Homo sapiens: one gene and its partners. The protein of the gene in region 3 interacts with the protein of the main gene of each other region in a pairwise test. Each region holds a gene or a part of one and is shown on either strand. Other genes may lie near its edges. The genes, in order: PCNT, WAC, TRAF3IP1 and SPTBN1.

What was found.
Region 1: the proteins of TRAF3IP1 (region 3) and PCNT interact in a two-hybrid assay, tested with the Homo sapiens proteins (2 studies listed by BioGRID and IntAct).
Region 2: the proteins of TRAF3IP1 (region 3) and WAC interact in a two-hybrid assay, tested with the Homo sapiens proteins (2 studies listed by BioGRID and IntAct).
Region 4: the proteins of TRAF3IP1 (region 3) and SPTBN1 interact in a two-hybrid assay, tested with the Homo sapiens proteins (2 studies listed by BioGRID and IntAct).

The regions. Positions count from the first base shown.
Region 1 is NC_000021.9:46,319,982-46,327,155, forward strand, and holds the start of PCNT (pericentrin), read left to right. Parts: upstream 1-4,174; 5' UTR 4,175-4,247; coding exon 4,248-4,301; intron 4,302-4,685; exon of another isoform or gene 4,686-5,229; intron 5,230-6,306; coding exon of another isoform or gene 6,307-6,395; coding exon 6,396-6,608; intron 6,609-7,174. Other genes in the region: uncharacterized protein C21orf58, read right to left, coding at 2,658-2,757; uncharacterized LOC128092249, read left to right, coding at 6,307-6,510. UniProt on the Homo sapiens protein: Integral component of the filamentous matrix of the centrosome involved in the initial establishment of organized microtubule arrays in both mitosis and meiosis. Plays a role, together with DISC1, in the microtubule network formation.
Region 2 is NC_000010.11:28,529,135-28,536,128, reverse strand, and holds the start of WAC (WW domain-containing adapter protein with coiled-coil), read right to left. Parts: upstream 3,012-6,994; 5' UTR 2,686-3,011; coding exon of another isoform or gene 2,550-2,685; coding exon 2,509-2,549; intron 2,132-2,508; coding exon 2,095-2,131; coding exon of another isoform or gene 1,947-2,094; intron 1,896-1,946; exon of another isoform or gene 1,783-1,895; intron 586-1,782; coding exon of another isoform or gene 568-585; coding exon 372-567; intron 1-371.
Region 3 is NC_000002.12:238,351,510-238,358,532, forward strand, and holds part of TRAF3IP1 (TRAF3-interacting protein 1), read left to right. Parts: intron 1-1,317; coding exon 1,318-1,441; intron 1,442-1,663; coding exon 1,664-1,700; intron 1,701-4,494; coding exon 4,495-4,571; intron 4,572-7,023.
Region 4 is NC_000002.12:54,641,304-54,648,326, reverse strand, and holds part of SPTBN1 (spectrin beta chain, non-erythrocytic 1), read right to left. Parts: intron 5,345-7,023; coding exon 5,198-5,344; intron 4,005-5,197; coding exon 3,741-4,004; intron 3,099-3,740; coding exon 2,874-3,098; intron 2,400-2,873; coding exon 2,310-2,399; intron 2,134-2,309; coding exon 1,852-2,133; intron 1,197-1,851; coding exon 1,066-1,196; intron 1-1,065. UniProt on the Homo sapiens protein: Fodrin, which seems to be involved in secretion, interacts with calmodulin in a calcium-dependent manner and is thus candidate for the calcium-dependent movement of the cytoskeleton at the membrane.

The DNA of each region.
Region 1 (7,174 bases), on a different chromosome or scaffold from region 3:
GTCTTGGGAGACATTTAAACAGCTCTGAGTGTGCACAGAACAAAAACCAGGTTAATTTAGTTAAGCAACTGTATAGAGCACCCTTGATATAAGTGACCTCATCTGAGAAAAGGACTCCATCTTATGTATTTTTTTTTGAGATGGAGTTTTGCTCGTTGCCCAGGCTGGAGTGCAGAGGTGGAGCCATCTCAGCTCACTGCAACCTCCGCCTCCCGGGTTCAAGTGATTCTCCTGCCTCAGCCTCCCGAGTAGCTGGGAGTACAGGTGCACGCCACCACGCCCAGTTAATCTTTGTATTTTTGGTAGAGATGGGGTTTCACCATGTTGGCCAGACTGGTCTCGAACTCCTGACCTCAAGTGATCTGCCGTCTTGGCCTCCCAAAGTGCTAGGATTAGAGGTGTGAGCCATAGCACCTGGCCCCTGATGCCTTTTAAATTATAAGATAGGGCCAGGCAGGCGGAAGTTGCAGTGAGCCAAGGTGGCACCACTACTGCACTCCATCCTGGGCAACAAGAGTGTAACTCCACCTCAAAAAAAAAAAAAAAAAAAAAAAAAGGGTATCAGGCCAACAGGGACCAGATGTTTCCTCATCAGTAGATACTGCACCCACCCAGATAAAGACATAAACAAGACACTCTTACTATCAGTCCTTACCAGAGTACTCTATGGCCATGAAAAGAGCAGAACACCACCAGGTCAAAGTGGCCGTTTTACAGACAGTCTTGCTGTCACTTGTGAGAAGCCCTCCACATCTGCTGCTGCAGGCTCTGCCCACATCAGAGATGCTTCCTTGCCAGATTCTCCTTTTCGTTGAACTGGTTAACTTTTTTTCCTCTCCTCTTTCTCTTGATGTGGAATGTTTATAACATTTATGCAGTGGTCAAGTATACTATTATGTATGGTTTGTAATACTGACTGACTTAAGGAGAGACTTGAGCCTGTGTGCCCACAGCTGTGACTGCCAAGTGAATGGGAAGCACTAAGAATTGCCTCCTCGGGATCTCTAGTAGTATACATAACATGCTCCAGAGGGCATGGATTTGTCAGACTTTTTTTTTAAATAGGGTTTTTAAGAACAGTTTTAGATTTAGAGTAATTGAGAAGATAGTACATGGAGATCCCACATACCACATGTGTGGCTTCCCCTCTTATTAACATCTTACCTTAGTGTGCTACATATGTTATATATATATATATTTTTTTTGAGACAGAGTCTCGCTGCGACGCCCAGGCTAGAGTGCAATGGTGCAATCTTGGCTCACTGCAACCTCTGCTTCCCAGTTTCAAGCGATTCTTCTGCCTCAGCCTCTCGAGTAGCTGGGACTACAGGTACGTGCCATCATGCCCAGCTAATTTTTGAGTGAAAGCCAGTGCACCTGGCCCATTTGTTATGATTAATGAACCAATATTGAGACACAAGTAACTGAAGTCCACACTTTGACAGTTTCCTTAGGTTTGCCTCATGTCCCTAATGTGGTATCCATCAGAACACCCCATTACATTGAGTTATGTGTCTTTAGGCTCCTTCTCAGACTTTCCTCGTTTTTGATGACCTTGACAGTTTCGAAGAGTACTGGGCAGATATTTTGAAGAATGTCCCTCAATTAAAATGTGTCTATTATCTCCTGGTTAGACTGGGACTGCAGGTTACAGAAAGGAAGCATCTAGGGGTGAAGTGCCACTGTCACCCCATCACATCAGGGACACACACTGTCACCTCGACTATAACTGTGAGGCTGACCTGCGTCACTTGGCTGAGGTGGAGTCTGCCAGTTTTCTCCACAATAAAGTGGCTCTTTCCCTCCTTTTCTTTATTGCACTCTTTGGGAGGAAGTGGCTATGTGTGGTCTACACTTAAGGAGAGGGGAGTTACGTTTCCCTCCTTGAGGGTGAGTATCTACAAAATTTATCTGGGCAGCTTTTTTTTTTTTTTTTTTTTGAGTTAGGGTCTCAGTCTGTCACCCAGGTTGGAGTGCAGTGGTTGCCTGGCCTTGACAGCTTTTTAATAGTTTAAAATGAATTGAGGCTGGGCGAGGTTGCTCATGCCTGTAACTCCAGCACTTTGAGAGGCCAAGGCAGGTGGATCACTTGAGCCCAGGAGTTCAAGACCAGCCTGGGCAACACAGTGAGACCCTGTGTCTACTAAAAATACAAAAATTAGCTGGGCATGGTGGTGTGCCTGTAATTCCAGCTGCTCAGGAGGCTGACATGGAGAATCACCTGAGCCCGGGGAAGTTGAGGCTGCAATGAGCGGTGGTCTCACCACTGCACTCTAGCCTGTGTGACAGACTGAGACCCTGCCTATAAAAAAGAAAAGAAAAAAGAACTGAAATAAGACCCAAGTCCAACATTAGCAGAACCTCTCTAGGATGTCCACAGAAACGACTCTGGGGTTCTGAGGAACACAGTCTAGGCAAACCTGGGCACATCCCCTCAGTCCCACAGTTGTAAATGTATTGTAACACGTAACAGTTGTGAGATTCAGGCGCGGTCTGGGTCTCTGTTCCTGGAAAGTGTGATCCTGTGGGTGCAGCCCCTGCTCGCTTGGCTGTGTTGCCTGCCTGGCCCCTGCTCTAATGAGCCCACTGCCCAGAGTTTGCTCAAACCACCCAATTCCGAGTCTGGGAACCAGGAGACCGCTGGACACCCCGCTCACCACACAGAAGACTGTGGCCTGAGTCAGGAGAAGGAAGTTTCTGGCGGTCGAGCTTCCACGGCTTCCTGAGGGAGGTTGCAGGGAGCCGAGATCGCGCCATTGCGCTATAGCCTGGGCGTCGCAGCGAGACTGTCTCAAAAAAAGAAAAAAAATTCTGAGCGAGATTCCAGGGCTTCCTGAGGGCGCGTTTAAGTTGCAGTTGCTGAGGAGGCTGCAAGGTGAGCTTGCGTCAGCGAGGAGCCACTCCAGCACGCTCGGGAAGGGCATCGTTACTGCTGCAAACAAGCACACGGCCCTCCACGACGAACCTTTTGCAAGTGAAGGCGCACGAACAGGCCCGGAGGACTACAAAGAAACCCAGAAACCAGACTTGGACACATGAAATAAAGGGGTTAGCTGAAGGAATACTCCACAGTTAAGGACGGCCTGCGCGAGGTCACCGGCCCTGTCTTGGTTTTTTGCCACTTCGCTCCAGTTAGTTTCCCAAGTTCCACCTACGCGCGCGCCAGCTGAGAAAACGCCCACCCCGGCGGTCCCGCCACAGGTCACAGGCGGTGCGGACCCCGGGACTGTGTCCGGGCTTCGGTGTCCAGAGAGCTCCAAGACACCCAAACCTTCCGTGGTTTCCACCTCTGCAAGCTTATGTTCCGCTGAGCTCAAGCTGAGGGACGACGACCTCATGCGACGTCAGTTTCCCCCTGGGACCACGAACCCACGGCCCCATTTCTCTTCTGTCTACTAAAAACCTTTTCTTTTCTTTTTTTTTTGAGACCTAAGACATCAGTGAGACACACGAGCAGACACGGGCTCGGTCGGGAAAGGCGGGAGCTCCAAGCGGCGGGGCCTGCAGGTCCAGGCGGTTCGCGGGCTTTCTGACCGCATTCGGCCGAGTTCTTCTCTGAAGACCCAGGACCCCCGGCCGAGGGGGCGCATTCGGCGGGCTGGTGGCGTAGGATTTTGTTTCGGGTTCCCAGGGTCCCGGCAAGGGTGAGGGAGCCCTTGCGGATCCCCTGAGATCCACCTCAGCAGCCTCCTCCGTGGTAGGCCTCAACTTCCCGCGGCGGCCCACAGCCAACGACTAATGCCTGAGCGGGAGAAAACGGCCTGGCCCTGTCCGGGTGGTTGCTGAGCACCGTTCGGCGCCGCCCGCGCCTGCAGGGAGCCCGGCCCGCTGTCCTGGTGGACACAAAGCCCAGGGGCCGCCCGCGCGGGACCAGCAGCGCGAACTTTTTGCCGCTCGGCCAGCCTGGCAGGGGATTTTAAAATCGGCCAATCACAGCGGGCGCCAGGCCTCCGCTTTCCGCTTACTGGTCCTGCCGTAGGAGGCGGGTACGTGAGCGCACCAATCTGTGGCCGGCGAGCGTAAAGGGCGGGGCTCCGCCCAGGCTGCACCGCCCAGAGCGCGCGTGCGCGAGACCGGAAACGCAGCCCCCTGATTGGCGGCGCGTGTCGGGGGCGGGGCCGCGGCTGCGTGACAGTTGTCGCGGGGGGAGGGCGAGCCCAAGCGCGGGGGAGGGAGTGTAAATAGAGCGAAGGCTGCTCTGTGTCAGCCCCGTCACCGCCGGGCGGCCCGCGCGGAGTCTGAGGGAGATGGAAGTTGAGCAAGAGCAGCGGCGCAGAAAGGTGGAGGCCGGGAGGACGAAGGTAAACATTAGGGGCTTCTTCTCTAGCTGCTCTGGCGTGAAGTCCTAAGGGCGGCTCCGGTGCCCGCCACCGCCCCCTGCCAGGAGAGGACGCGGTCCGGCGGAAGCCGCCGCGGAGGTCTCGCTTTTTCCCGCCGGCTCCGCTGGAAGCCGCCTCCTGGCCGCCGCCATCTTGAATCCGCCGCTCTCCGCCAGGTCCCGCCCCCGCCGCGGCCACAGCCAATCAGCGGCCGGGACGCGCGGCGCCTCTCGGGCGGGCCGGGGCGGGGCTGCGCCTGCGTCGGGGGGGGTGGGGCGCGGGCTGGGCGCGGTGCACGCCGGGGCGGGGTGTGGCTGCAGGGCGGGGCTACAGGGGCGTGGCGTGGCTGCACGGAGGGGGTGGGGCGCGGCAGGCGCTGGACCCCAGGCTGGATCTTCCAGTGGCTCCCGCGTCCTCCGGGACCGGGTGGCCTGGGGCGGGCGGCCGGTATTCGGGTGGCTGCTTGGTCTAGGGCCAGTTTCCTGCGCGGCCGGGGCCGGGGGCGTGGCGCGGGTGGCCTGCAGCGCCTCCCCAGGGTGCGCCTTCGCCTCGTCCGTCGGAGATGCTTTCCCCGCGCGTTTCTCGCGGCGTTGCAGTCCTTACTGTGTGAAAGGCCCCCGCGGCGCTCCCGGCCGCCGTCTTCTTCCCGCGCCCTTGGGCTCGCGTCCTGCCCGTCCGGGCCTGGCGTACGCTGCCGGGAACCCACGCGGCGCTGGCGCCGGGCGCCTTCAAGGGACGCGCTCCCGTCTTTCTCCCGCCCCGGGTTTCTCCGTGAAAAAGCGCTCGGTTTGATGGCCACTGTCCTAGGTTTCGTGGGAATAAAGCGCGCAGAGCCCATGACTCGGGGGCAGGAGAAAGGGAGTCCCGAAAGCGCGAGGCGGAACCGCGGGAGCAGGCCGGCCTCTGCGAGGTGCGCGCCGCTCCCCCCCAGGATGTTCTGGCTGGGGTGCTGGGGAAGAGCGGGGCTCCCGGGCACGGCGGACAGGGGACGCGGGGCTAGGCCGGGGAAGGGCTGAGGCGGGCAGGAGGGGAAGGGGAGCCCGGAGCCTGCAGGGAGCTGCGAACAGGAGCAGAGCTCCCAGGAGGGTGGAGGGGGGAGGGAGGGACAAGACGCCGCCTGTAGGGCGACGCAGGCCGCAGACCAGGTCTGTGCTATATCCCGACATGGATAGGTGTGGTGGAGGAGGACATGAAAATAAACGACATGAGGTTGACTTTGAAGGAAATATTTCCTTGAGAGACCATTTTCTTGTGTAAATGGCCTTGTGTAATTTTTCTGGGTCCATGAGCTTGTGTACTTGTGTTATCATTTACACAAATGTGTGTTCCATGCGTTTGTTTTTGTGGCCACAGTTGTCTTTTGAGGGAACAGATGTCTCCCCGTGAAAGGCTGATGTGGGATCGATCGCATACCTCTTGAGTAAGACGTTAGCGGGAGATGAGGCTCGCACATAGTCTCAAACTCTCGGATTTGAGGACTGAGCAGAGCTAGGCTGTGCCTTCTGATGGGCGATGCTCTGTGGATGTCCCTGGTGCTTTGGTGAGCTGTGTCATGAAAAATAGAACATCTGATTCCATAAAGGAAGATGTGAGATTGACCTGGCTTAATTAATTTTTTGCTATTTCTGTATCTTGTCTCAGAATCTATGGCTAGGAAGTTTTGGCTGGGCTATATATTTCTTCAGTTGGGGGAAAATTGGGGCAAGAAGGGAGAGATTTAGCTTTTATATCATTTTAAAACTTAAATATGCCTTGATTAAGCTATCAATCTTTTATACAAATTTTTTTTAAAGTTTTATTTTTCTGTAAACTGCCAAGGGCTAGGAAAGCTATTCTGCCAATCAGCCGTATGGTTTTCTTTACCAGGCATAATTAGCAGTCCTCATTGTTAGACCCCTTGGATATAGATATTGATGAAGGCAGTGTTTGTGGAGAGCCATCTGTTGGCCAGGTGTGGCAGAGTAGACTGGGTCAGCCCTCGGGCCTCATGGTCCCCACCAGTCTGTTGACTTTGTGGTTCTGTTATTTTTTTCTCACTTACCTTTGCCTTTACTACTTATCTACATTTTTGCGCAGCTTGCTCACTTCCGACAGAGAAAAACAAAAGGTGACAGTTCGCATTCGGAGAAAAAGACGGCGAAGAGGAAGGGCTCGGCTGTCGATGCGTCTGTCCAGGAGGAGAGTCCGGTAACCAAGGAGGACAGCGCACTCTGTGGAGGAGGGGACATTTGCAAAAGCACATCATGTGACGACACCCCTGATGGGGCAGGAGGGGCCTTTGCAGCTCAGGTAGATTTGCTCAATGTTGTATTTGAACATTTCGCTTATCTTCTAGTGATTTCTAGTGTGATTTACTAAAGATGGTCTTTGGTCTGTTTTTGCCTTTCAAAAGTGAGGAAAGAGGGTGTTATTTTAGTTTATAAAAAGTGAGGGCCGGGTGCAGTGGCTTACGCCTGTAATCCCCGCACTTTGGGAGGCCGAGGCAGGCGGATCACCTGAGGTCAGGAGTTCCAGACCAGCCTGGCCAACATGGAGAAACCCTGTCTATACTAAAAATACAAAAATTAGCCGGACATCTGGCGCACACCTGTAATCCCAGCTACTCGGGAGGTTGAGGGAGGAGAATAGCTTCAACTTGTGAGGCAGAGGTTGCATTGAGCCGAGATCACGCCAATGCACTCCAGACTGGGTGACAGAGCGAGACTCTCTCTCAAAAAAAAAAAAACAGTGAGTAAATTTTTATGGTTTTATTCTTTTTATTTTATTTTTTATTTTTTTGAGATGGATTCTCGCTCTGTCTCCCAGGCTGGAGTGCAGTGGCGCGATCTCGGCTCACTGCAAGCTCCGCCTCCCGG
Region 2 (6,994 bases), on a different chromosome or scaffold from region 3:
ACTACAGGCGCCTGCCACCACCACCATGCCCAACTAACTTTTGTATTTTTAGTAGAGATGGGTTTTCACCTGCTGGCCAGGCTGGTCTTGAACTCCTGACCTCAGGTGATCTGCCCGCCTCGGCCTCCCAAGTGCTGAGATTACAGGCGTGAGCCACCGCGCCTGGCCTTAAGAGTCCACTTTTTAGATGCTCACATCAGCATCTTGTTTCTACAGTAACTTGTTCAGAGTAAAAAAAAAATGATAGGATTAAAATATTTTAATGACATAACTGAACAGTAACTTCTTCAAGCTAGAAATACTACTGCCGCCTTTTATATAGAGCTATTGTTAAAACTGTATGTCAAAGTTTCAACAAGAAAGATACTCACCACCATCCCTCTCTCTAACTCTGTGAGTATGCACATTTTTGGCCTTACTGTGACCTGTGCTGTCACTGTATTTGTTTTCAGGACTATCAGATCTCCGCAACATTTTATTTGGTGGTGAAGGATCTCCGGCGTCTCGCATCTTTTCATGTCTGTGATCACCGCTACTGGGGTGACTCTTCGATGAATACTTAAGTGCCTGTAAAACATCACCCCCCCAAAAAAAGAGAGAAAGAATTGAAACCTTAAACTCCCTAATTTAAACATAAACTTTGGTGTATTATCATTAAATTTTATGAACTTACAAAATTAAAATTTCCACTTTCAATTCTGCTTTACTCTTTAAAGTTTCTCAGACAAAAAACCTAATGCTTAAGCGTTACAATAAGACTCCTGATAACAAATCACACTAAACACAAAAAAAACCCACTCCATTATCTTATAAACCACCTTGCACACTGATTCTGCAAAAAATAAAAAAATTTGGCTGAGAATATTTAGAATCATTTTTTGATAGTCAAAAGAAAACTAGAAATTCAGTACTACTATAATCAATTTCTGCTCTACAGCTGATATACACAAACACATGTATAAATAAGCACATGCATATTTTTGCAAACCTACCAAAAAAAAAAAAAAAAACCCACACACCAGTTTCTCCAATTCTTTGATTCAAATAAAGCATTTCAGACCTAACTTCCTTACTCTCCCAGGTGTGGGAAACAATTTTAAGGTATAAAAATACTAACCAAAATAAACTAATGTGAGTACTATTTCTAACTAAGCATAATGCGCTCAAAATAATCGTTTAGCTTTATTCTAACACATATCTTAAGACAATCATGATGTACTAATCTGTTGCAATGTGTAATCAGCTATGCTTTGGAGGACAGATTCAGTAAAGTTTAATTTTTGACATATCCAATGTTTTACATATCAGAAGACAGTGTTTTCAAATTCAGCTGTATAACACAACCATCAGGTTAGAAACCTGCTCTCTAGTCCTTTAAGATGTAGAAAGTGTTTTCTGCAGTCATCTGATGGTTAACAATCATTATGAGGTTTCCCTCCTGAAAATTGGGGCCACTTTCATCATAATCCTTAGAACTTCACACACAATGACTGCAGTAACAAAAAGGAACCCACCTACCTAGAACCACCTACATCAGAATGATTATCCAAGTACCCAAAGACCTCAATTCTTACAGAAACAAAAGCACACATATCTTTTACTTGTAAGGCAATTAAGTATACCAAAAATATTAAAAGGGGAAAGGGTAGTACTTTATAACCGACTTGAAAGTTGTAAGTCATTTAGCTATTTACCCAAGTTCTTCACTTAATTTTAATACCTTTACATTAACTTTTCAGTTCCCCCAACACAATAAATAAATAAATAAGCCTCGTAAGTCACCTATCATCTCATCCCATCGATTCCTTCACTCGCAAATAATCAAATAATCGAGTCAGGTCTTTCTGGCTGCAAATGATTCTTTTTTCCTAAATCAGCGAACTCCCTCCAGTCACCTGTCAAAATAAGTCACTAAACCTTGCTGGAGAGCGCTAAAGGAACCAAACCTGGAATTTTAAGGGGATCCGCGGTGCTAGTTTCAGATGTGTTGCACCGAAGGGCCTGTATCGACTTCTGAGGCCTGCGCTCGAGTAGCAGTCCCTCCCTTCCCCCTCCGGCCCCTTCCAATCCCTCCACCCCGGCCTCGGCTGGTACCTGGTAAGGCTGCGAGTCCCCCCTCCGGTCGTGACAGCTGAAAAACAGGAAGAGAAGGCAGCGACATAAGACACGGCGCGGGTGGGGGGCCGGGGAGGAAGAAAACGGGGCCCCCGCCGCCCCTCCCCGCGGGAGACCTACCGAGCGCCCCAGCGCCGAGCCCCGCACGCACACGGCACAAACCCGGAGCCTCCGGAAGGGCCGGAGAGGGCGAAATGCCGCGAAGCCGGGCCCCCGCTCCCCGCCACACTGCGTTCCCGCCCGCCCGCCCGCGCGGCCGCTCCTCCTCCCCAACCCGATCCGGATCAGGGTTAACAACAAAAATGGCGGCCCGGCCAGCTCCAGATAAGGAGGAACAGCCCCCCCGCCGCCGCCCCCCGCCGCCGCCCGGCCCGAAACGAAAAGACAATTTACCCATCACTGAGTCTCTGCTGTTTCCTCGCATACATTACCATCAATGCCCGGCCTGTGAGTGTGTGTCGGGGAGGGGGGAGAGCGGCCGCGAAAGGCGGGCGGGCGCGCAGGCGGCGGCGGCGGCGGGCGGCGGGCAGCCCCGGCACCTGGGCCCGGCGCGCCCTCGGCGACTCTCATCAGCTCCCAGTTACTGGCGCCGGCGCTCCCGGGCCATCTCCCTCCGTCGACACCACGCTCACTCTCAGCCGGGGCAGCGGCGCCAACTACACGGCGGCACCGCGAACCGGGGGGAGGGGGGCAAGACGACGCGTCCGGCTCAGCCCCGCGGAGAGCGACTGCCTCCTCCGCCTTCTCCTCCTCCTGCTCCGCCGCCTCCTCCCCTCCTCCCCCCGCCGCCGCCGCTGCTGCCGCCGCCTGGTCCTTCTTCTCCTCCTCCTCCTCCCGCCGCCGCCGCCGCCGCTGGTGCCGCCGCTGCCGCTCCACCAACTACATCCGGGCAACTCGGACGCTGCCGCCTTCGGGAAACCTCGGCAGTTTCCGCCGGGCCCCTCCTCTCCCACCCTCGGCCTTCCTCCCCGCACCGCGCGGGTCCGGAACACCGCCCTCGGCAAACCTCGGCTGGCTCCGGCCTTTCTCCTCCTCTGAGGCCTGGATCTTCTCTTCGCGACCAGTCTGCCCTTTCCTTCTTTTCCTCACTCGCGAGTCGGCCACCGCCGTTCCCGTTTAGGGATAGTCTCGCTCGGGCGCCTGCTCGAGGCTGATCTCAGGGGCTCCGGGCTGCGCAGGGAGGGAGCCGCCTTCCGGAAGAGGACGGTGGGGCGCGAGGGAAGCCATCGCGGACTAAATAAGGGAGGCTGCAGCGGCTGCGCGTGCGCCCAGAGGCGCAGCGGGAGGGGGTGCTCTCGGGCGAGCTCTCCGGCCGCGGCCCCCGCCCCTGCGCTGTCGGGCGGGGAGGTCGGAAACCCCCTGGCGAGACCACGGGCGGACGCTTCCCGAAGAGCTGCCTGGGCTGCAGCCGCGGAAGCTGCGTTCTGGGGAGCGGGGAGCGTGCTCCGGCGCCTTCGGGCCGCTGCTGGAAGCCGGAACCGAGCCCGGGCCGCTGCCCCTCACCGGACGCCGCGCGCCACCGGCCCTCCGCGGGGCAGGGGCTGCTGCGAGCTCGCCGGGCGCCCTTTAGACGTAAGTCTCACCCTGCGCCCCGAGGCAGGAAGGAGCGCGTGCAGTCCCGGCCAGAAACGGCTAATAGGAAGGGCTGAGGGGTTCTGTGTTCAAGGCAGAAGGCCGTGCGTCAGGGCGGCCCTCAGCGGAGATGCGTGCACGGAGCGGGGAGCGCCGCTCGGGGCAGGGAATGAAAGCGGCGCTTGAGACTGGAAATTTAGGGAGATGAGTTCCTTGGGAACAACGCTGAACCATCTCACTGCCCCACCCTACCCCTTGTTATTTTTTTTTGAGACAGGTCTCGCGCTGTCGTCCAGTCTGAGTGCAGTGACGCGATCACGGCTCACTGCAGCCTCGACCTCCGGGGCTTACGGGTCATCCCACCTCAGCCCTCTAAGTAGCTGGCACCACGGGCATGCACCACCACACCCGGCTAATTTTTTAAAAAAAGTTTTTCCGGAGATAGGGTCTCGCTGTGTTACCCAGGCTGGTCTCGAACCCCTGGCCTGAAGCGATCCTCCCGCCTCGGCCTCCCAAAGTGCTGGGATTACAGGCGTGAGCCACTGCGCTCGGCTTTTCACCCCTTTCTAACGTTTTCCATCCCTTTCTAACGTTTTCCATACCCAGCGGTGCCCTGCCCACCCTCTCTTTATCTCTCACTTTTCCCTCCTCTGTTTCTTCCTCGCTGAAGTCCATTGGTGAAAGAAAATTCATGTGAAAGTTCTCAGGTGTGTTAAGTGAAATTGCTACAAATTTGATTTTATGTACTGCTGCAGGTACATTGAGAGAAGAAACGTGAAGTATACCAAACAACCGTTAGTTGAGAGTGGTGGTATTCGGGTGATTGGTTGACTTTTTTTTTTTTTTTTGCACTATTTGTAAGGCAACATAGTTTAATGAAAAGAATTGTGGTAAACATAATTAGGTGATTAACACAGAAGAGGCAAATAGTAAACAAGTCAGAAGAAACAACCCCCTCCAAAAAATAAAAAGTAACTGATTTACTTGGTATCCAAGAAGTTACGTTATTGCTAGACCTAATAGAATGGAGAGATGGAATGATGTAGGGAGAAAGGCTCTGAAATCACAACTGGTTGGAAAAAAAATTTTAATTACATAATCTTATTTGTCACATCCATCTGCCAGATGTAGAGCTTATTGCTGTTTGTGGAGATGTGCAGACCAATAAAAAGCCTATTTAATGCTCTCTTAAACTACCAGTAACTAAAAAAAAAAATTGACAGTGACTGAAATTATGAAAACAAAAAAATTCGGTAGCATCTTAACATGTAATTTCTGACATATTTGTAGTGAATCCATTGAAGACAAACATCAGAGGAGTACAACAAATAACATTTCATAGAAACTTTGAAAACTGGCAGCAAAATTACTACTAATTTGTTTGATAACTAGATGTCTGCTGAAATTGGTATAAACCATTTGCTCAAAAGTAGCCAGGCATGGTGATGCATGCCTGTATTCCTAGCTACTCCCAGAGGCTGAAGCTGAACAATCACTTTAGTCCAGGAGTTCGAGACTGCAGTGAGTCATGATCACACCAGTGCACTCCAGCCTGGACGACAGAGGGAGACCCTGTCTCAAAAAGTAAATAGGCCGGATGCAGTGGGTCATGCCTGTAATCCCAGCACCTTGGGAGGCCAAGTCAGGTGGATCATTTTGAGGTCTGGAGTTTGAGACTAGCCTGGCCAACATTTTGAAACCCCATCTGTACTAAAAATATAAAAGTTAGCCAGGTGTGGTGGTGTGCGCCTGTAATCCCAGTTATTCGGGAGACTGAGGCAGGAGAATCACTTGGGCCTGGGAGGCGGAGGTTGTGGTGAGCCAAGATCTTGCCACTGCACTCCAGTCTGGGTGACAGTGAGACACTGTCTCTAAATAAAACCACATTATCAAAAGTCTGATCTGCTCTCCTTTACAGAAATACTTTATCTTTACTTCTCTCTCGAACCCACAGACTTCATTCCCACACTTCTGGACCTGTTCAAGATCATCTGTAGCATCCATGTTTTCAAGTCTGATTTTTATTTCTCAGTCTTCATCTCCACTTGTCAGCAGCATTTGACACAGCTGATAACTTTCTTCTCCTTAAAGTTCCTTATCTTGCCTACCAGGATTTCATTTTCTTTCTTGCTTCTCTTCCTTCCCAAATGGCTGTTCCTTAGACTCCTTACTGGTTTCTCCTTCTTTTCCAGCCTCTAAATGCTGGAGTGGCGTGAGATTCAAATCTTACAACCCGCACTCCTCTGTTCTCTCTCCCTAGGCAATCTCATTCAGATCTCTGGCTGGATGAAACCCACATTTGAATTTCCAGTCCACACCTTTCCTCTGAACACAAGACTCACACTTAACTGCCTACTGTATAGCACTGCTTGAGTTTCTAACAGGCATCACAAACTTAATGTATTCAAAACGAAACTCTTAATCTCCCCCCACCCCAAACAAGTCCTGCTGAGATCTTCCCAATCTCTTGAAATGACAACTCCATTCTTCTAGTGGAGGCTAAAAACTTTGGAGTCATCTTTGATTGTTTTATATCTCACATTGACTCCATCAACAAATTTTGCCAGCATTACCTTCAAAATGTATCCACAATCTGATCTCTGTAACCCACCTCCAGCAAGTTCACTCTGGTCCAAGCCACCATCATTAAACCTGGACCGTGGCAAAGGCTTTCTAACTGATCTTGCCCTTCTATGCCTGCTTCCACATTGTTTGCTGTCTCATACAGTGCAGTAATCCCTTAAAAAGTCAGATAATATTCCAATCTTGAATAAAAGCCAAAGTTATAGCCATGATCCACTAGGCCATATGTAAACTGCCTGTTACTTCTGGCTTCTTATCCACTGACTTCTTTATTTGCTCTTTTTTTGTTTTTGTTTTTGTTTTTGTTTGAGACTGATTCTCACTGTCGCCAGGCTGGAGTGCAGTGGGATGATCTTGGCTCACTGCAACCTCTGCCTCCCAGGTTCAAGCAATGCTCCTGCCTCAGCCTCCTGAGTAGCTGGGACTACAGGCACGTGCCACCACACCCAGCTAATTTTTGTATTTTTAGTAGAGACGGGGTTTCACCATGTTGGCCAGGATGGTCTCCATCTCTTGACCTCGTGATCCACCCACCTCAGCCTCCCAAAGTGCTGGGATTACAGGCGTGAGCCACCGCGCTCAGCCCTGCTTTCTCATTCTTTTCCCACCATTCTACCCTCCCTCCCTGTTTTCTCCAGTATACCAAGCATGCCTCTGCCTCAGGACCTTTGCACTGCTGTCCCTTTGCCTGGAATCCTCTTCCCCCTTAGTACTTGCTTGGCTC
Region 3 (7,023 bases):
CAAGGCGGGACAGAGAGGGCCTGCCGATCACGGCAGGCACAGGGGCGCAGGTGTTGAGGAGGTGGATCGTGGGCCACAGTGAGGGTGTGCTGGGAGCGTGAGAGACGAGGGACGGGAGCCTGGACTTCCTGGTACTGACAGAGCAGCGGGTTCGAAGTGAGGTTGGTCCTGGCGGAGCCACACAGGTGGTTGTTGAGTGTCTCAAGGACCCAGTTGAGGAAGTCGAGGATGTTTGGGGCAATGGGTGTTATTTTCAGAGGTCGTTCCCAAGTGTCTACATTCCCTCTGGACCTTGTGCATGGCACTGAAGCAAGGGAGGATTTTGGTGTGTGTGTGTGTGTGTGTGTGTGTGTGTGTGCGCGCGCGCGCGTGTGCGTGCATGTGCTTGTGTGTATGCGTGTGTGTGTGTGTGTGTGTGTATGCATGTGCACGCATGCAGCACTGCGATAACGGGGCAGGGGGAGTTAGGTGATTGCTTAAAGCACAAGTGTGTAGGGAAGAAACAAAGGCAGGAGGGGCCATTAAGGAGCCTGTAGAGTGTTTGGGTCGGGGGCTCACATTTGTACAGAGTGAGCTGACAGTGGCCTGAGTGAGGAGGAGTGGGGCAGCTGTAGGTGGGGCAGTTCTAGTAGGTGGCCCTGGAGAGCATGAGAGAGCCCTTGGGTGAAGGCTGTCACCAAGGAGGACAAGGTCTGGGGCTGGAGGGCCAGGCTGTTGGACGCTGACTTGCCCAGAATGATGTGGACTTGGGTGGAGCGCAGTGTGTACGTGGTGCTGAGCGGGACATAGGGCAGCCACTGTGACTAGGAGTTGAATGAGGGGCCTCCAGCTGGCTGTGTGAAGAGAGGTCTGGGGTCAGCCCTGGTCAGTGGGACCCCAATGTGGCCCCTGCCCTGAGGTTTGTGACCCAGGGCAATAAGCGCCTCCAGGTAGAAAGCAGCAGGTGAAGGGCTGGTGTCACTGAGAGCGCAGTCAGGGGAGAGGCGGAGGCCCTGAGGGTCTTTGTGCAGTAGAGGGCATGACGAGGCTGTGGGGACGGGAGGCCAGGTGTGGACCAGGAGGCCTGGGCAGCACAGGGACGTGGGGAAGCTGGGTGGGGGTGGAGGGCGAGGCTCACAGGGACTCAGGCCTGGAGGGCTTGCAGAGGACACTGTTTGCAGACAGTCCATCTTAGCTTCAGCGGGTAGCTTGAGATGCTGTTCTAGCTAGAGATGGTTGGTGATTAGATTCCTCTCTGCCGACCTCTGACACAGTTTCAGATGCTTGGGACTGATGAAAATGTGTAATTCTAATTTAATCTAATTTCTTTTTATTTAGGTCAGGGAGTGGTAAAACCGTTTCAAATGTGATTACAGAGTCACACAATTCTGACAATGAAGAGGATGATCAATTTGTGGTGGAAGCTGCCCCTCAGCTCTCTGAAATGTCAGAAATTGAAATGGTTAGTTAACCGAAATATGATGTTTTTTAATAATAATGTTTTACCTTCATTGAGATTAATAGTCTAGCTTTTAGATTTATGTAGACAAAAATGTCCTGTAATTTTTCAGTTAGTTTTCTACCTTCGTTAATTTTGTTGTTCTTTTTTTGAGATCCACAGAAGCATGATCTTTAAAATTCAACAAGCCTGAATCTTCTTTTTCCCCCTTCCTTTCCTGCTCAGGTAACAGCAGTGGAACTAGAAGAAGAGGAGAAGCATGGTGAGTCCTGGGCACGAGTGTGCATGTATGTCCATGTGTGTGTGCTCATGCACCTTCTCCACGTGGGCCTGGAAGGATCCAGTGCAAGGGACTGTTGTGTGCCAGGTTCTGGTCTGGGTCACACTGGCGGGATCACACTGGTGGTACATAGGACCCTGCGGGCATGGATTACTCTTAAGGCGATGGCTGCTGCTCCCCATCCTTAGAGGAGGGGGAGGGCACAGTTGGAAGCTGGAAACTCACTGGCAACTGTCCTGCAGATGACATCTCGTCTCTTCCGTACGATTAAATTGTGGAAGTAGATGATCTCTGAGGCCCTTTGCAAGTCTAGTTCTGGAATGTTATTGTTGGTTTTCTAGCTGGACAACTCAGTAGTGCAAACCCCGTTCCCCACACCAGGGTTTGAGTATCCTGGAACACAGTTTCTGCAGAAGAGGCAGGCTGAGTACTTTCCTTTATAGATCTGTTCTCACAATATGACTTTGTTTCCTGGCACCTATCACAGGTGAGTAACGAGGGCTTGTTGGTTTTGGGGGTTTGGGGTTTTTTTTGGTATCTATATGAAGCCACCCTTTTTTATTTGAGGCGGAGTCTTGCCCTGTCACCCAGGCTGGAGTTCAGTGGTGCTATCTCAACTTACTGCAACCTCTGCCTCCCGGGTTGAAGTGATTCTCGTGCCTCAGCCTCACAAGTAGCTGGGACTACAGGCGTGCACCACTATGCCTGGCCAATTTTTGTATTTTTAGTAGAGACAGGTTTTCGCTACGTTGGCCAGGCTGGTCTCCAATTTCTAACCTCAAGTGATCCACCCGCCTTGGCCTCCCAAAGTGCTGGGATTACAGGCATGGGCCACTGTGCCCAGCCTAGTCACGGATTTTTAACATAGTGGATGTGTTTCATTTCAGCCCATCTCAGTTTTTCTTATTAATGTTCAGATTGCCCAGTATTTGACCAGGGGAGCCTATTGGAGTTATTTTCTGGGGGCCTTTAGACACATCCCAGTACACTCTTTAGCTTCCTTGTTTTCTGATACGACAAGGTGTTTCCAGCTTATTTTGTGTACTTCCTGCCCCATAACTGCCTCATTTCTCCAAGGCACCTGGCCGCTTACTGCTCTGGGTTGCTTCTTGTTTCCAGGCATTTTCACTGCAAAAGCAGGGATATACTTTTTTAAAATAAGAAAGTATATTCTGACTTAGTGATGATATTTCCAATTCCGATTTAGGATTGTAGGGTTTTGCCTGCATTCTTTGGTTTTATATATGCATCTCTTCCATCTCATGCCAAAAAGCCTGGCTCCCAGCAGCAGCGGCTGTCCCCATGCTTTATGATCCTTCATATGCTCACATAGCAATTTTAGAACACCACGACTGGTTTTTAACAACAATAGGATTACTGGAAACGCTGAAGGATTTTATTTTATTTTATTTTATTTATTTTTATTTATGTATTTATTTTTGACATGGAGTCTCGCCCTGTCGCCCAGGCTGGAGTGCAGTGGCGCGATCTTGGCTCACTGCAACCTCTGCCTCCCGGGGTCAAAAGATTCTCCTGCCTCAGCCTCCTGAGTAACTGGGATTACAGGCGCCCACCACCACACCCAGTTATTTTTTTGTATTTTTAGTAGAGACGGGGTTTCACCATGTTGGCCAGGCTGGTCTCGAACTCCTGACCTTGTGATCGGCCCCCTTGGCCTCCCAAAGCGCTGGTATTACAGGTGTGAGCCACCAAGCCCAGCCCAAGGACTTTTTTTTTTTTGGTAGGTATGTCTGCCTGTTTGTTGGGTATATCCTATTAGGGATGTACAGTCAGTTACCCTGTTTTAAAGTTGTGAAACAATTCTCTAGTGGCGCATGCTTGCCAATTGGATATCACTAAGTTTATTTCATTTTGCATTCAACCTTTAGGCATTAGTGTTGTTTACCTTTTTAATGTAAGATAATTCGCATGATTTTAAGGTCAGATGTACAAAACCAGGTATAATCAGAAATGTGGGGCTTTGACCCGTCTTCTCTACCCTCTACTCTCCCTGTCTCCTCTACCCTCTACTCTCCCTGTCTCCTCTACCCTCTACTCTCCCTCTCCCTGTAGGTAACAGTAAAATAGGGCTTATACTTACATTTGAAAAACAAACAAATAAATAAATGCATATGCATGTGCATGTGTATTTACTGATACCTACACTTATTTCCATCTTGCTCTTTTTAATTTGACAGCAGATGCAGGCTTTCATTTTGCAGCAATGCAGAGAAACCATCCTCATTTCCTTCATAGCCACGTCGTCCTCCACCGTGTGGACGTACCCTCGTTTATTCAGTCAGCCTCGGGCTGATGTATGCTTGGGTGAAACACTATTCCAAAAAACTTCACATGATATTTATCCCATGAGTAAATTCTGAAAGAAGTGGAATAGTCTTGCCCCAGTGTAAAAGAAGTATCCGTACTTAGAAGCATTTCTTGTTATTTCTGTTTGTAATAAATGGCTATATTTTTGGATGTCAATCTACACTCCTTCTTAATCTTTGAAAATAGAAAATCTATTTTATTTCTAAAGCTTTTTACTTTTCAAGGAGCTGATTTCCCTGAAACACTTTGAAATGTGATAATTTCCACTACCAGCTGTCTATCACTCTTGTGTACTATCTCCTTAACAAATAAAGATTATTTGAAACTGTTTCAGCATAAAAAGAGATAGGATAAAAACTTAGTGTTTTTCCCACCATCCCACCCATTTAGAATAGGTTTTTGGGATAGAGAATAAACTTTTAACATAAAATCACTGATTTTTCAACAGGTGGACTTGTGAAAAAAATTTTGGAGACGAAGAAAGATTATGAGAAATTGCAGCAGTCACCCAAACCTGGGGAGAAGGTAATGGAATGATTTCCATAAACACTGGCATTTTAGCAGTCTGTTTCATGCATTTACAGACTTTTACAAGTTGGAGCATCTTTCAATATTACCATTATCAGTGATGTCTGTTTGCATATTTAAATGCCATTCCTGGCCAGGCATGGTGGCTCACGCCTGCAATCCCAGCACCTTGGGAGGCCAGCGCAGACAGCTTACCTGAGCCCAGGAGTTCGAGACCAGCCTGGGCAACATGGTGAAACCCTGTCTTTACAAAAAATACAAAAATTACCCGGGTGTGGTGGCGCATGCCTGTAGTCCCAGCTACTTGGGGGGCTGAGGCAGGAGAATCGCTTGAACCTGGGAGGTGGAGGTTGTAGTGGATTGAGATTGTGCCACGGCACTCCAGCCTGGGCAACGGAGTGAGACCCTGCCTCAGAAAGAAAAAAAAAGCCATTCCTCCCTCCTCCCAGTTGGGAGGATATAAAGTGTGGGACTTCCTCTGTGGGGCTACTTCCCTGGCCTGGTATCCAGCCCCGTCTTGGGAGGGGGCAGCGGCTTACTTGGGGAGCTCAGGAGCCAAGAGCCAAAGGCCTGTTGGGCTCTGACTCCCTGACTCTCCCCTTCTGGCCTTGCCCATCCCTTCTCCCAGGTCCTGTTTGCAGACTGGGAGGCTGGCTGCCTGATCCTGGCTGATTGCAAAGTAAGAGACTGGGAATTTTTTTTTTTTTTTTTTTGAGGTAGAGTCTCGCTCTGTCGCCCAGGCTGGAGAGCAGTGGCATGATCTCGGCTCACTGCAAGCTCCGCCTCCCGGGTTCACGCCATTCTCCTGCCTCAGCCTCCCGTGTAGCTGGGACTACAGGTGCTCGACACTGCTCCTAGCTAATATTTTGTATTTTTAGTAGAGACGGGGTTTTACCGTGTTAGCCAGGATGGTCTCGATCTCCTGACCTCGTGATCCACCCACCTTGGCCTCCCAAAGTGCTGGGATTACAGGCGTGAGCCACCGCGCCTGGCCGGGAATGTTTTTAAGTCTTTTTTTTAAATACATGTTCTATTGTACCTGGTTCCCCGCAGTCTCCCTCACACATGTGTGATGTGCTTTTGTTGGGACCTGTGGCCTCTTGCCAGCCACTACCCTTTCCTTGGGCACATGACCACTAGGGCGGGCACCTGTGGGCCAACAGGGTGTGTCTCAAATGCCACAGCCAGGTTTCTCTTACAGTCACTTTAAAGAGGAAGAAGAATTTTTTTTTTCTTTTAAACAGAAGTTTCTTGGATATTTAGCCTAATAACTCAACAATTTAAAAAAGTTTTATATATAGGGATGTGTGCACACATACGTACACACACATGCACACATATATGTATTTCTCCCCAGCTGAATTAATGGTTGTTTTAGATAATTTTGCTTAACATGTCCTAGTTTGTCACAAAGCTAGGGCCTGAAATAGCCAATGAGAACTGTGCAATTGAGACTAACAGTAGAGGGAGCCCTTTTAACAATAATAACTGGAGAATGTTGTCGGCGGAGGCTTTGCTGACAGCACCACTGTTTGCCTTGCTGAAAGGAGAAATGCCTTCTGCAGTTTGTTTTTTCATTGATGGAATGTTAATACATTATAGTCCTTTCTGTATGCATGAGGGGTTGTCCTGGTGTCCCTGGTGGTATTTCTGAGACCCAGTCGAAAACCCTGAATGTGTCCCTCCAGGCTCCTAGTGGAGGTCACCTTTGAAGCCTCCATTGGTTTCAATTTTATAGCTATGATTTTTACGCAAAGCATATTAGGATTGTGTTTCAAAGTCTCCTTGGAAGAGTAAATTATTTCAGATTGGTAAATCTTTGGGCTTCAGAAGATGAAAGGAAAAGTGTCCTTTTTTGGTAAACATCTGCTGTTTTGAAAAAGAGTGGTCAGTGAGAACTTCAAAGTCAGGGTTGATGTATGTTACAGTTAGGGGAAAATCAGCAAGTGTCTGTATGATTTTCTTTAGGATATTGATAAACATCAGACTTAAATTTAACTTGTTGGTCTTCTTAAAACATTTTTGTTACATTTTTTTTTTTTTTTGAGTCAGAATCTCGCTCTGTTGCCCAGGCTGGAGTGCAGTGGCGCGATCTCGGCTCACTGCAAGCTCCGCCTCCCGGATTCACGCCATTCTCCTGCTACATTTTTTTTTTAAATAAATAAAAATGTGGCCAGGCGCAGTGACTTACACCTGTAATCCCAGCACTTTAGGAAGCCAAGGTGGGCGGATTGCTTGAGGCTATGAGTTTGAGATCATCCTGGCCAACATGGCCAATCCCCTTTCTACTAAGAATGCAAACATTAGCTGGGCATGGTGGTGCACACTTGTAGTCCCAGCTACTCAGGAGGCTGAAGCACAAGAATCGCTTGAGCCCAGGAAGCAGAGGTTGCAGTGAGCTGTGATTGCACTGCTGCACTCCAGCTTGGATGACAGAGCAAGCCTGTCT
Region 4 (7,023 bases), about 180 Mb from region 3:
ACAAAGGACATGTTGGTGCCTATCCCTGGAGACTAGGAAGGCCACTTTCCTGGGAATCCTGATCATGAACATCTTAAGAACCTCCTACACCAACAGAGCCACTGACCTCATCTCCCCTAACCTGCCCTGGTTAAATGCACAAGGCCAATTCCTTTCCAAGTCATAAAAGGCATTTACACAAAAATCCTAAAATGACTGCTTTGGAAGTTAATACAGGGGCCTGATGAGTACCACACACTCACCTCTTCTTTTTCCTCGAAGGTGTTCTAATCACTTGATATCGAAGAGTTAGGAGGTGTTATCACTTTGTTCTTCCTGGGAGCCCCTTCATTTTACAGGTCTATGCATTCTTGTCTAATGCTCCTCTTAAAACTAGTAATTACTTTACTAAACTGGATGACTTTTTCAACCCAAGTGTAAGTGCTATGACTATCTGTATCCACCATGCAAGTCAACCTGTACTTCTGATCATTTTTATTTTTTTGAGACAAGGTCTCACTCTGTCACCCAGGCTGGAGTGCAGCAGTGTGAACATGGTTCACTGTAGACTCAAACTCCTGGACTCAAACCATCCTCCCAACCTCAGCCTCTTGAATAGCTGAGTAGTACAGACGTGTGCCACCACACCCAGCTGATTTTTTGTATTTTTTGTAGAGATGAGGTTTCGCCACATTGCCGAGATTGGTCTTTGGCCCCCTGGGCTCAAGCAATCCTCCCACCTTGGCTTGGTAAAGTGCTGGGATTACAAGTGTAAGCCACTTTACGTTGACTGCCCAGCCTAGTCAACCTGTACTTTTGACTCACGACACCAATATTCTTTCAGGAGAGCCTTGGCCAACGGGAGATATTTAACCCACAAGAGCAATTTCCTAATATAACAGTTCACCCATCCTAATCATGATAGGATGTTTTAAATGATGGGTCTGTTTTAAAAATGCTTCTCAAAGATTTGCCTTACCAGCAAGTCATGATGAATGCTGACATTTTCTTTTGGTGGGGGTTAGCAAGAGACCCTAACTGAGAGGAATCGAGAGCCGGGTCTCACACTCATGAAGCAGCGCTCACCTTTCAGGATGGCTGTCGGCCACCAGGGCCCGGCTGGTCTTGGAGAGCTGATGCACGGTCTCTGCATAGTCCTCCACAGCTTGTTCTAAGATCTGGTGCTTCTTCAACATGGAGACAGCACTCTGCTCATCCTGCAAAGACAGGAGAACATCACAACCATAGCGGTCCCCTCTGGCCCTACCCCTTAAGGAGTGACAGACCAGCTGCTCAGCAGGGTAGGAGGAAGGATCAGTAGAAAGAAAAACTCCAGAGGTGCAGTACGGACAGTGGAACACAGAAGTGTTCCAAGAGCTTCCATATGGACTGGACCACAGAAGCCTGTGCAGAAGATAAACACAAGGAGAACGCAGAATGAGCAGGGCCCCTCTCAGAGAAAAGCTTGGGCAGACCAAGTGTGCCTGGTTCGCTGGAATTCCTCAAGGTCCCTCAAGTATGTAAATGGCAGCATTCCTGGAACCTTGCAATACTTTCAAATTGTCTCCAAGCCATCCTGTATTTTGTAAAGTTTAGGGAACCTATAAATAGACAGCAGGAAGGACTCTGGCATATTTCAAAGATGAAAGGATGAACCTGTTCTTAATGGCACACTAGGATTCAGATAAGAAAATGCTGCACCAAAGGGAAACCAGCAGCTGGATTTCAGACACCTTCATGCACATGGTGTCCCCTTAACACTCAAAGGCTACAAGGGAAGTTTTTATACAGACAGAGCCGCCAGCAGAAAGTGTGCCCAGGGTTTGAATCTGAGGCTCTCCTGGGACAGGGATGCTTCCCGCCTCCTCTCACCTTGGCCTTCTCCTCTGACATCATGTACAGCTCCTGCTCGCTCATCCAGGCTTCGGCCTCAGCAGCGTCAAAGTAGTACTGCTGGGCCCTGTGCGCCTCCTCCAGCCGCCTGTGGCGTTTCTCTGTCTCCTCAATGAGGAGACCCCACAGCTGCTTCAGGTCGGCAAGCCTCTGTCTGATGGCCTCAGCGCTGAGGCTGCTGCTGTCAGTGACGATGTTTTGGCTCCTCTCAAAGATGTCGTCAATGCGAGGCTGGTGCCCCTGGATTTCTTTCTGGAGGGTCTGGAGGGAGCGGAAAATACACACAAAGGCTTGCTAAATGGCAGCCGTCTGCTGCTTATGTCAAGCTGTTAGGGCCAGAAAGAAATAGCAAGGCTTCAAAGCTCTCTGCCATTCCCAGTCTCATAATTTAGAGCAATTATTTATCAGACAGAACTAGCTCGAGCAGAAAGGCTTACCTGATTTTTCTTTATTAACAGCTGCACAGTCTGGAGGTTGTGGCCATGATCCGTGGAAGTTGCCAAAGGCATCCTCTCTCCAACCCACAACTGGGAAGAATTTTAAATAAGTGGTCAGATCCACTCAGAGGAACAAATATACGACACAAACGAGCAGTGAGGGGCAGTGAGGGACAGCAAGGGTGAGCTTCAGAGAGTGCTCAGCCCCCTCGGGAGGGCTGTCTGGGGAAGCACGCCCTTGTTCTCCGAGACAGGGCTAGGGAGAGTCTTTCCAACTCTACCTCATCCTCAAGGTCAAACTCACTGTGAGTCCTCATTACTTTTAAAAAGTCTGTTTTAGGGCCATTAAAATCCTACAGTATCCCTAGATAACGTGAGAGGACCAATGGAGTTACATTTAGGGTGAAAAGGGAAAGAAACTTTAGACCATCCAGAGCGTGGACTTTGGCAGCTCAGCTTGCCAACGTGGCCCAAGGTGAGGATGACTGAGAAGTGAGAATGTGGGCTTTAGCACAGGCAAGGGGGCTCGTGGAAAAGCCATGTGTGCAGTAGGGGTCGACTCACGATCTCGTCCTCCACATCCCTGTTGAACTGATGGATCTCTTTGGAGGCCAGCAGGTTATGCTTCCTCTCGTTCAAGGGCTCCAGCAACTCCATGAACTTGGTCTGCACGGTGAGGCGCTTGCTGTCTACCTCGTCGGTGCTCTTCCCTTCCTGACTCAGGGCCTGGGCTTGGCTTTGGAGCTCTTCGATCTCCTTCTTCCGCACTTCCATCTGATTCTCCAGCATCTGAGGGCAGAGAAGCAGCCTCAGCGCTCAGCACAGACTATCTTTTGCAGTGACTGGCTCTAAGCAGAACTGCTGGGCCTGGGACTTGGCCACACCGCAAAGCCAGCCATGGGAGCCACTCAAACATTTTGCCACTGACTTGCTTTTCAACATCAATGGAACTGTTTTCAAGTAAATCTGAGGTAAATTCATTTGCCCTTAAAGCCCTCTACGGTGATATAATATAAACAGTTATTTTTATTACCTATAAAGTGCCTTGAACAACTCAGATAACTGTCACAAATCACGATGTTAAACAACAAAGTATGAGAATATTTCTTTCGTGTAAAATGCAGAATTGAATGAGATGAACATTTATTTAACTGTTAAACGGTGATAATACCCATTAACTAAGAAAATTATCAATCCCATACACAGACAGCCAACACCCAATACTCCTAATACTGTGTCTTTCTAGTTTGGACAAGTGTCTTTCTATTCTGGAAATGTTCTACGATGCTGTTAGAGCAAGTAATATTTTGGGTTAAAAATGCCTTCCCATGGAAGGTGGACTCCTGATAATGCAGTGGGTGAGAAAAGACTCTAAGGACTATGGCTGTAAAACAGAAATACACCCAAGTCCATGATGGCTTGTCCACTTGCCTGTTGCTTTTTCAGCAGGATATTGACACTGGTCAGGTCTTTGCCATAGTCATCAGACTGAATCTGACTCTCCAGGCCGTGCAGCCATTTGTCTAGATCTGCACAGCTCTGGGTGAAAAGTTCGGCCTTGTTTGCATCAAAGAGCCGCTGGGCCTTTGTCTGGGTAGTGGATTCAAGGACTTCCCACATTTTATGTAAACCAGTGAGTTTCTCCTTCACCACAGCTTCCGTCTCAGGCTTTTCTGAAATGAGCTGCATTCCTTCCTGGAAAACAAAACCAACATGGTTGTAAATAAACAAGTTTGCTACAGAAAAAATGTCACTGTGAAAAACAAACCTAGGACATTTGATCTGTGATTTAACCATTCACTCAATACACACAGTCTTTCCACATGAAGTTACTGCTCAATAAAATCAACAACGACCCCTAGGTTGTGTACATTACAAGGGTTTCATGGGAATTAAGCAATAAATGTTACATGCTGAAATAGTCTCAACTGGGGCAACGGAATACTGAATGCTAATAACGTGACTTTATCTCCTCCATTCCATGACCAAAGATGATATACAACACATTATTATTATTATTATTATTATTATTATTGTTATTATATTGAGACAGAGTCTCGTTCTATCACCCAGGCTGAAGTACAGTGGCGTGATCTCAGCTCACTGCAACCTCTGCCTCCTGGGCTCGTGCCTCAGCCTCCCCAATAGCTGCGATTACAGGCACATACCACCAGGCCTGGCTATTTTTGTATGCTTCATAGAGATGGGGTTTCACCATGTTGGCCAAGCTGGTCTGAAACTCCTGGCCTCCAGTGATCCATCTGCCTTGGCCTCCCAAAGTGCTGGGATTACAGGCATGAGCCACCGTGCCCTGCCAACACATTATTTTAACCGTGAAGAATCTGAAACACTATAAAAAGTCTAAAAGGAGAGAAGTCGGGGGGAAGGGGGGGACTCCATATTCATCTTCAGTTATGCTGCCCAGAATCTCTCTGTGCAAGAATAACACATCATAGTAATTATTATAGCGCCTGGTATACAGTAGTCTCATAGGAAAAAGCAATTTTAAAAAATATGTATATATTTAAAATTATGTGCAATCTGTCACAGTACAACACAAATAATATGATCAAGACAGTGGAATCCCTGCATGAGAGCTCACAGTCCATCAGCAACAGCAGATGAGAGGCACAACAGAAACTAAATGCCTAGTATTCGTTCTACGATAAATCAAGCATTTTCTACTAACTGGTTGGGTTTCTGCTTTTTTCCCTTTTGATGGGTTGAAGTCAGGAACCCGTACGTGCAAAGGGAGCTATTACTGGCTGTGTAACTTACGTAAATGTACAGATAAGATCAGATATGCTGGAAAATGTGCTAAATAAAAAGGAGTTTATTACTACCCTGTTTGTTTTCTCACCATGGCCACATCAAATGTTTTAACTCACCTTCTCGATTTTGTCAAGCCATTCTTTGTTGGATGCAAGTTCTGCCATAAATGCTTGATGCTTCAACCATTTACTGTGCAGATTTCTGGCTTCATCGTAAGACATGTCCTGGGCTGTGAGCATCTTCTCATTGATCCAGAGAGACAGCTACAGAAAGATCAGAAGGATTCAGAGATTGTGATCCTAGACATCAGCCTTTTTTCCGCCTGGAAAGGGTTGTGTTTATGTCATATTATGCATACTACACACGTTTCCATGGTGACAGACAACCAAATATTTAACTTCACAACTCTGACCCGTCATGACAGGTGTCCATTAGATGGAGCTTGTACCTGAGCTCTGCTCCAAACTATATCTAACATTCATTCCAGAAGTACAAAAGCTCTATAAGCCAGTTTTCAAACTGTTTGGCACTCATAACTGGCTTTCCCCACAAAAGGCCCGTGTTTAAAATTCTACCCTAACCACTCCAAGACATGACTCTTTTTCTCTTCCAAATACCTGTGTCAGCTATACCATGTTAATCATGATTGACTTTTACTCCATTTGGCAATCCTTCTTACTCTCTTAGTTCTTTTTATTAAAAAAAAAAAAAAAAAACTACTTATTTATTACCTCCCCCTTTTTGTGGGTGCATCGAAGGGAATGCAAAAAGGCATAAATAACTTGCTCACTGTAGGGCTAAGGCAACAATCATGCCCTTTCAATGTTTCCTTCAAGTTTGAGTCACCTTCACCTCTTTTTCTATAGCCTCTAGTTCTCTAAAGAACCTTTCATTCACACCAAGAACACTTCACAGGACTTGATTTTGAGACCCAACATGTCTGCTTGGATCTGAACTCTAGAGAGCCGCACAAAGGCTGCTGGCCGCTGACAGACCTGAGAAAGGAGCTCTCTTACCGGGGTCAGCCAAACGCCAGGCCCAGACCCACTTTTGCTGGCTTCCATCCCGAATCGGCCCTGGCTCATTACTGCCTGCCTGTAAGGGCCATGCCAGAGTCCTGATTCCCGCCCCATTTGCTTTGCTAACCTAGGAAGAGCTTTTTGTTTGCCCAGGCTGAAGATACACAAAAGAATGCAGAGCCAGCCTGGAATCAGAAGTAACCAACTGAAGGGACCATGTCCCTTCTCCTGAGTGACCGTGAGAAGCCCACTTTTACACCAGTTATTGTCACAACAAATTGGCACCTTAAATCCTTCATGGTTCTACCAACAAAGATCTAGAAGTGACACATAAAACCAGTAGAAGTACTTACAGAATTAACACTTCCAAGGCCCTTCCACTCCCACTGTGGGCTGCTGCCAGGAAAGGCTCCCCGAGATTTGTTTTTTGGAAATGATGTCAAGGAGAGCGACGTGGGTCACAGGAGCCCTCTGGCTCTGAAAGTGGGTGAACTCTTGGGCACTGTCCCTATTCTCAGGCTATTCACCACACAGGGAATGGGGCAGGGGGCGGGGGTGGGAGGGGGTTAAAAGCAAAAGGTAGTGAGATTTTTGATTTCACTCTTTGTTGAGGGAAAAACTAGCAAATCTCATAAAGTCCTTTGTCATCAAAGACCATGGATCTATTAGACAATAAAGGCACGCACTTCCTACTTGGAAAAAATTATCTATGTTCCAGTTATCTGGGCAGCTAAAATCTGAAAGACTATGGCTATTCAATCTTAGGGGAAAAGAAGTTAAAGTAAAACTTAATGACAAAATTTTTCCCAGTATTCTGTACATACACACAAAACAGAAGGCATTTATTGATTCAAAGTGCCAAGGACATTCACATATTTTCGCTATTCATAACCACTTACCCAAGAGGGATTAAAAAGAGAGAG